Homo sapiens: one gene and its partner. The protein of the gene in region 1 purifies or fractionates together with the protein of each later gene. This does not show direct contact. Each region holds a gene or a part of one and is shown on either strand. Other genes may lie near its edges.

What was found.
Region 2: the proteins of VPS4A (region 1) and ARL8B purify together in Homo sapiens (affinity purification with mass spectrometry; 2 studies listed by BioGRID and IntAct, with this or other methods). This does not show direct contact.

Annotation. Positions count from the first base shown.
Region 1 is NC_000016.10:69,314,131-69,318,045, reverse strand, and holds part of VPS4A (vacuolar protein sorting-associated protein 4A), read right to left. Parts: intron 2,039-3,915; coding exon 1,927-2,038; intron 1,822-1,926; coding exon 1,674-1,821; intron 1-1,673. UniProt on the Homo sapiens protein: Involved in late steps of the endosomal multivesicular bodies (MVB) pathway. Recognizes membrane-associated ESCRT-III assemblies and catalyzes their disassembly, possibly in combination with membrane fission.
Region 2 is NC_000003.12:5,174,292-5,178,206, reverse strand, and holds part of ARL8B (ADP-ribosylation factor-like protein 8B), read right to left. Parts: intron 3,864-3,915; coding exon 3,793-3,863; intron 1-3,792. UniProt on the Homo sapiens protein: Small GTPase which cycles between active GTP-bound and inactive GDP-bound states.

The DNA of each region.
Region 1 (3,915 bases):
ACAGTGAAGCCCTGTCTGGGGGAAAAAAAAAAAAAAAAGCCAGTCAAACAATGCAGCTGCCAGAAGCTTCTTTTTTTTTTTTTTTTTTTTTTGAGATGGTGCCCAGGTTGGAGTGCGATGGCACAATCTCCATCTCAGCTCACTGCAATCTCCGCCTCCCGGGTTCAAGTAATTCTCTGAATTCTCTGGCGTCAGCCTCCCGAGTAGCTGGGATTACAGGCACATGCCACAATGCCTGGCTAATTTTTTTTTTAAGACAGAGTCGCACTCAGTCGCCCAGGCTGGAGTGTAGTGGCTCGATCTCGGCTCACTGCAAGCTCCGCCTCCCGGGTTCACGCCATTCTCCTGCCTCAGCCTCCTGAGTAGCTGGGACTACAGGTGCCCGCCACCACGCCCGGCTAATATTTTGTATTTTTAGTGGAGACGGGGTTTCACCGTGTTAGCCAGGATGGTCTCAATCTCCTGACCTCGTGATCCGCCCGCCTCGGCTTCCCAAAGTGCTGGGATTACAGGCGTGAGCCACCGCGCCCGGCCTATTTTTTTGTATTTTTAATAGAGACGGGATTCACCATGTTGGCCAGGCTGGTTTTGAAATCCTGACCTCAAGTGATCTGCCCGCGTTGGCCTCCCAAAGTGCTGGGATTACAGGTGTGAGCCACCATGCCCCGCACCAGAAGCTTTTTGTAGAGACTCAGGGACAGCATGTGCCCCTGACTCCAAAGCAGCCACTGCCGAAGGACAGAGGAGAAAGCAAAACCGAAATCGAAAGGGAACTCCTGGGGAGAACGCAGCCACTGTCACCCCAGGGCTACTTCCTCCCTGGATGGAATCTGTCATCCTCAAAACTTGATTTAATCCTTATTGGAGATCCCTGGCCTCCACCCCTGCCTCGCCAGACCTCTCCCTCTGCGGATGGGAACGTGGTGCAGACCCTCCATCCAGGAGGAGGCCTCGCCTCTGGTGAGGCAGCTGACACCACCCACCCCTCTCCTGCCTGGGGGACCCCCTCACTTCCCCTCCCACGCCTCCGAGATACCACCAGCATTTGTGTTCATATGACTGGGATCACCGTGGTGGGCGAACCCAGTACCTGAGGTGAGAGGCTGTGGAGAGGACCCTGGCTGGGGAATCGGGGCCACCCGCCCTGCTTTGGGGGTCCAAGTTCCATCCTGTGCCACCTCGGCAGGGCTCCTAACCCGAGCCGGCCGCCCCACCTGTTGGAGGCAGGTGACTCTTTGACAGTCACAGCAGCTGGCACTCATTGCATGCTCTCGTGTGCCAAGCTCCAAGGGCACTGCCCACGTCATCTCACTGCTCCCTGTGGCAACGCTCGGAGGTGAGTTCCACGACCTCCCCACTTCCAAGATGTGGAGATGGTAGGCACACGGGGTCCTGGCACTAGGCTGGGAGGTGACAGAGCTGGGGTCCCGTCCTGAGAGGCTCTACCATCTGCACCAAGCTCCCCCTCTCCCCATGGCTTGTGGGTCAGATCCAATGAGACGGTGAACATGGAAGTGCTCCAGGCCATGCTCCCTGAAAGCAGCTGCTGGCACTGTCATCCCTGCACTATGAGGACCATTCCCACAGGGAAGTCCAAGGCAGCATGAGCGCCAGGAATGATAGGGAGCCGTGAGGAGGGCCCAGGTTCCTGGGCGGACGCTGCAGACACTCACCCCTTGCCCTCACTCTGGTTCTCTTTGACTGGCTTCTTGCCGTGTTTCTCTTTGCTTCGTAAATAATCCTTCAGCTTCTCGGCCCGGTCTAGGTACTGCACGCACTTGGCTCGAATGCTCTCCTTGGCCTTGTCGCTGTGGGCCTCATCTGTGAAAGGGAACACAGAGGGGCCCCTGTGAGGCTCGTGCGCCACCCCCTCTCCTCCGCTCCCCTCTGGAGTGCGGCAGCCTGAGGACCCCTCGTGTGACTCACACTTGATAGCGTGGAGGAAGTACTCCACCGCATGCTGGTACAGCCGCAGCGCCTCCTCGTAGTTCTTGGCTTTGTCCTCCTCTGTGGCTTTCGTCACCAGATCAATGGCTTTCTGGAAAGGCAAAGCAAATGGCTCAGTGCTTCCTCGGAGAGGTGGAAAGTCCCTGGGGTCACAGGCATGGGGATGAAACGTGACGAGGGATGCCGCTGGGCCTGTGGATTTATTGCTTGCGGGCCATTTCATTGGCCTACTTTTTCAACATCGGCTAGAAAGGCCTTCAAAGAAGGCTTTGAAAACCAGCCGGCCATCTTCACAATAAGCTCAGACGGTTAAAAGCCACGCTCTGGATTTCAGCAAGTGGAAACCTGACCTAATATCTCAGGTCAGGGCTCAAGGGGCAAGTTCATGGGACTTTCTATTCTGCTGCCTCAAGGGAAAGAGAAACAGACCCGAGCTGAGAGCCTGGCAGAAGGGACACGCGGGAGCAAGTGACTGCTGGTTTGTTTAGCAAGGAGACCAGAAATTGCACCCGGCCTCAGGGCCAGAGAAGAGCCAGCCAGAAGGAAAGTCCTGCCCGGACTGCAAGTTTGCACAGGATACACTGAAAGGCCTCTCTCCTCCTCCTCCTGGCTCCATGCAGCTTGCTTCTCCAGGCTGCAGAGAGAAGACAGTTTCCTTCGCTGTCTAAAGTGACACCCTGGGAAGGGACGCTTACACACAATGCTCCACATACCAGTAGCTCCAGTAAGAAAAGTACTTGCTTGCTCCCTGCTGCCAACAGAAGAGAACTGTGTCCCTCTGGAACCTTCTAAGAGCTCTGTGAGAATGAGTGTCTTTGGGAATCTCATAAATCCTGTAGGCCAGTGCCTTAGGCTGAACTGAAAGCACCTACGTGGTTTTATTTATTATTATTATTTTTTGAGACAGAGTCTTACTCTATCATCTAGGCCGGAGTGCACTGGCGCGATCTCGGCTCACTGCAACCTCCACCTCCTGGGTTCAAGTGATAGATGCCCACCACTACATCCGGCTAATTTTTGTATTTTTAGTGCAGACAGAGTTTCACCATGTTGGCCAGGCTGGTCTCGAACTCCTGACATCAAGTGATCCACCCGCCTTGGCTTCCAAAGTGCTGGGATTACAGAAATGAGCCACCGCGACCGGTCAGTAAAGCACCTACATGGTTTTAAAGCCTGGTTTTAAAAACCGCAGCTTCACCAACGCCTGCACGAAGCATGACCAGAATTCTCCTCCTCAGATCCGGCACCAGTTACCAGGCAGGCAGTCCCACCGCAGACCCACGGTTCCAGGCACAGCAAACAATAAACCTCCTGACCGGCTCTTGGCAGGGCCGGGGCATTTGTTCAGCCCTCTCTTATCTGCAAGGAAGAAGTCTCCGAAAGAAACACACACAGACAGCTCGACAAAACAGACAGGCCAGGGGAGGCTGGGCCAGGCTGATGTGAAATGAACTCAGCGGATTGAAGAGATGAGAAGAGGGGTGAGTGCTGGCCATTATTTTCAAGCCTCTGCTCCCTCTACTACCTACAATGAATGGCTGGGAGCCCCAAACCTTCTTGGAAATGAGCTTAGGCACAGGCTGCCCTTGTCTGCCCTCTTCTGCATGATGTTCCTTCAGATGAGACAGGAAGGCAGCGCTCCTCTCCCTGGTGGCTTCTCGTCTCCAGAACACACACCCCCAGTACCTTGGACTTTTTCACTCTCTGTAGCTTCATGCTTGGGTCTATCCTTAGAACAATACTGAAGGTATTCTTTGTCCCATAAGGAGCAGCACTGACCCATCCCCTCCCTCCTTTTGGAAATTCTAGTAATACACCTAAGAGTGTGCTGGGGCTGGGCACGGTGGCTCATGCCTGTAATCCCAGCACTTTGGGACGCGGAGGCGGGCGGATCACCGGAGGTCAGGAGATTGAGACCATCCTGGCTAACACAGTGAAGCACCATCTCTACTAAAAATACAAAAAGTT
Region 2 (3,915 bases), on another chromosome or scaffold:
TGTGGAGCTCTGGATGGATTGTGAGTGATACAATGTGACTAAAGCACAGGGATGGGAGAGGAGGCTGTCACTGCCAAGGCTGGTGCAGGGTTCACACCATGCCCTTTTGACATCTGGGGCTGGGTAATTCTTGTCCTCACTTCTTCAGAAGGGTACATGAGAGTCTATCAGAAGCACCACTCTATTCTCCAAGCCTGAAAGATGAGGGTAAATTCACTACCAGTTTCCCAGCTAACATGCATTAACGAAACACCACAGGGCTGAGCTATAACAAACATGAACTGTTCACCATTGTGGAAGCAATGATTTAACCCAACTACTGAAGAAGCACCTCTGCACCTTAAAATGGGGACAACAGTGCACAATACGAGCAAAGCCACACTCATTGGAACTGAATGGGAGAAAGGTAAATCTGAAGTGAAATAACCAAATTTAAATATTTAAGAAATTCATGGCCGGGCACGGTGGCTCACACCTGTAATCCCACACTTTGGGAGGCCGAGGCAGGTGATCACCTGAGGTCAGCAGTTTGAGACCAGCCTGGCCAACATGGTGAAACCCCATCTCTACTAAAAATACAAAAATTAGCCGAGCACGGCAGCGGGCGCCTGTAATCCCAGCTACTCGGGAGGCTGAGGCAGGAGATCACTTGAACCCAGGAGGCGGAGGTTGCAGTGAGCCAAAATTGCGCCACTGCACTCCAGCTGGGCCACAAGAGTGAAACTCCATCTCAAAAAAAAAAAAAAAGAAATTCACTAAAAAATTACACAAAGCCTCTGTGGATACTGATAGAAGTTCATATCCTAAAGACAAATGGATCTTTATGAATAGGCAAAAAGACAACAGAAATAAGATACTCAGATGAACTGATCTACAAAATACTTATTTCGAATTTTATTAGAGTGGATCTTATTAGACTGGATCAGATTCCTTGGGCTTGACAACCTTTTAAGTGAGCCAGGAGTTCTAAAATTACTACTGAGCTATTTAGCCAACTATAAAGATCAGCCTCAAATAGCGAAAGAAGTCCTCACAGCTCTACTGCACTTCCATATATGAGCCCAAGAGATTTTGTTTTTTTTTCAGGAAGTATCCAACTAGTTTGTAACAATGGAAAAACAGAAAACATGTAGGGAGTAATGGATTTACAAAATAGCACAATGGACTAAAAATTACGGTTAGTGTAGAACAGGATTTCTCAACCTTGCCACAACTGACATTTTATGCTGGATAATTCTTTGCTGTGGAGGTTATAGTATGTTTAGCTACATTTCTGGTATCTACCCACTAAATGCCAGCATCACCCTCCTAGTTATGACAACCAAAAATGTCTCCAGACATTGTCAAGTCTCCTGGGGGAAAAGCTCCCCATTGAGAACCACTGATGTAGAAATAAATGCTCTCATGGGGCATATCTTAAATTTTAAAAAGAGTTTTCCCCGCCACATAGAGAAAAAACTTTTAAATAAAGTCTAAGTAACCACAAGTGCTTGAGGAGTCTGTTCTCAAATAAATGCTCCCAATGTAACAAGTGAATTATTCTATCCATTTATAAAGGAAAATTTGTGTCTATCCGCTGTTACTAAGGCTGAGACTGCCCTGGATGGTCTTTAAAGGAAGCCCAAAATTAGCCAGAACGACTATCCACACTTTAAACTGAATAAAGCATATTTGTGGCTGGGCGTGGTGGCTCATGCCTGTCAATCTAAGCACTTTGGGAGGCTGAGGCAGGTGCATCACCTGAGGTCAGGAGTTCAAGACCAGCATGGCCAACATGATGAAACCCTGTCTCTACTAAAAATACAAAAATTAGCCAGGCGTGGTAGTGGGCAACTGTAATCCCAGCTACTCAGGAGGCTGAGGCACAAGAATCACTTGAACCCGGGAAGTGGAGGTTGCTGTGAGCTAAGATCTTGCCACTGCACTCCAGCCACGGCGACAGAGTGAGACTCCATCTTAAAAAAATAAAAATAAATAAAGCCATGTTTGCAGGCGGGGTGGAAGGTGAGTTAGGGAAGGATAGACTGGAATACAAAAGCTAAAGAAAAAATATCAGCATAAACTTTATAGATATACTATTCTGGTACTATTTATTACATTTTGTTCCAATACATTCATTTATCAAATCATCTCAAACCAAATTAGTTAAGAAACTAAAGTTGAGCCATACATACTTATTCTGTAACCATACTATGCTAGAATGTTTAATGTCCCCCTAAAAAGTCATGTCCATCCAGAACCTCAGAATGTGACTTTTACTGGAAATAGGGTCTCTGCAAGTTATTAGTTAAGATAAGGTCATACTGGATTAGGTGGGCCCTACCTAATCCAGTGACTTGCGTCCTTAGGAAAACATAATACACTGACACAGAGACAACTACAGGGGAGAAGCATGAATGTGAGGCAGAGACTGGAGTGGTATATCTACAAGTGAAGGAATGCCAAGGATTGCTGGCAACCACCACAAGCTAGAGAGAGGCAAGGAGGGATCTTCTACAGCCTTCAGAGAGAACACGACCCTGCTGACAACTTGATTTTGGACTTCCAGCCTCTAGAATTTTGAATGACTTAAGTTTCTGCTGTTCTAAGCCACCTTGTTTGTGGTACTTTGTTATGGCAGTTCTAAGAAGTTAATATGGGCATTGAGTAAATGAAGGGTATTTTGGGCATATAATTCCAATAGAGTGCTAACATATTGCAGTAATATACTGGTTCAATAACTGAAAAATTGTTGTAGTGCCTGTAGACTAATTTTTGTAAAGTCTTATTTCAAAAATGCCATTTTGTTATAAAGCACAGCGGGATACTAGCTCTGCAAAAATTAACACAATAAATTGGTATCACATAATCTTAACCTCACGACTTTATTGCATTTTCTTCTTTAAATAGCACAAAGAAGATTCAGGATGTTATACATTCAGTCCTCACTTAACATCACTGATAGGTTCTTGGAAACTGCCACTTTAAGTGAAATGGTGTATAACAAAACTATTTTTTTCTCATTAACATTGTAACGCTGAACGAAATGAGGGCCTACTGTATGTCATTTCGCTTAAAAGTGCAATTTCCTCTTTTTAAAAAATTTTTTGCTGTTCAAGAGTTTGATAACATATAGGCCGGGCTCACACCTGTAATCCCAACACTTTGGGGGGCCGAGGCAGTTGGATCATTTGAGGTCAGGAGTTCAAGACCAGCTTGGGCAACATGGAAACCCTGTCGCTACTGAAAATACAAAAATTAGCCGGGCGTGGTGGTGCACGTCTGTAGTCCCAGCTACTCAGGAGGCTGAGGCACAAGAATCGCTTTAACCCAGGAGGCAGAGGTTGCAGTAAGTCGAGATCACGCCACTGCACTCAAGCCTGGGTGAAGGAGTGACACTGTCTCAAAAAATACATATACATATAATATTATTTATATATATATATTTATGTTATATATAATATATATTTATATATATTATATATTACATATATATTACATATAATATATAATACATATTACATATATATTACATATAATATATAATACATATTACATATATTATATTATATATATATTTGTATGAGAGAGAGAGAGATAACATTGCAATTTCAAAGAAGCCATCAATGATGTTAAGTGAAGGTTCACTATATTTGTTGTCAAAAGGTATGTCTATTCTTTTTTCTCAGGCAAAAGCAACAGTATTCTGAAAAGGAAGTCACTTAATGAGAAATCGAGACAATAAGCTGTAAGAAGCATAGACATTCCTTCCAATGATACCCATTTCTTCCAAAATTACCAGTCATTTCTTACCTATATTATCCTTTTCTTTGCAAGAAATTGAATAGCAGCAAATTTCTCTATCCTGAATAGCAGACAGATTCCTATGAGAAGAATTAAAAGGATAAGTCTGTGCTTAGAACAGCTGTCATACTT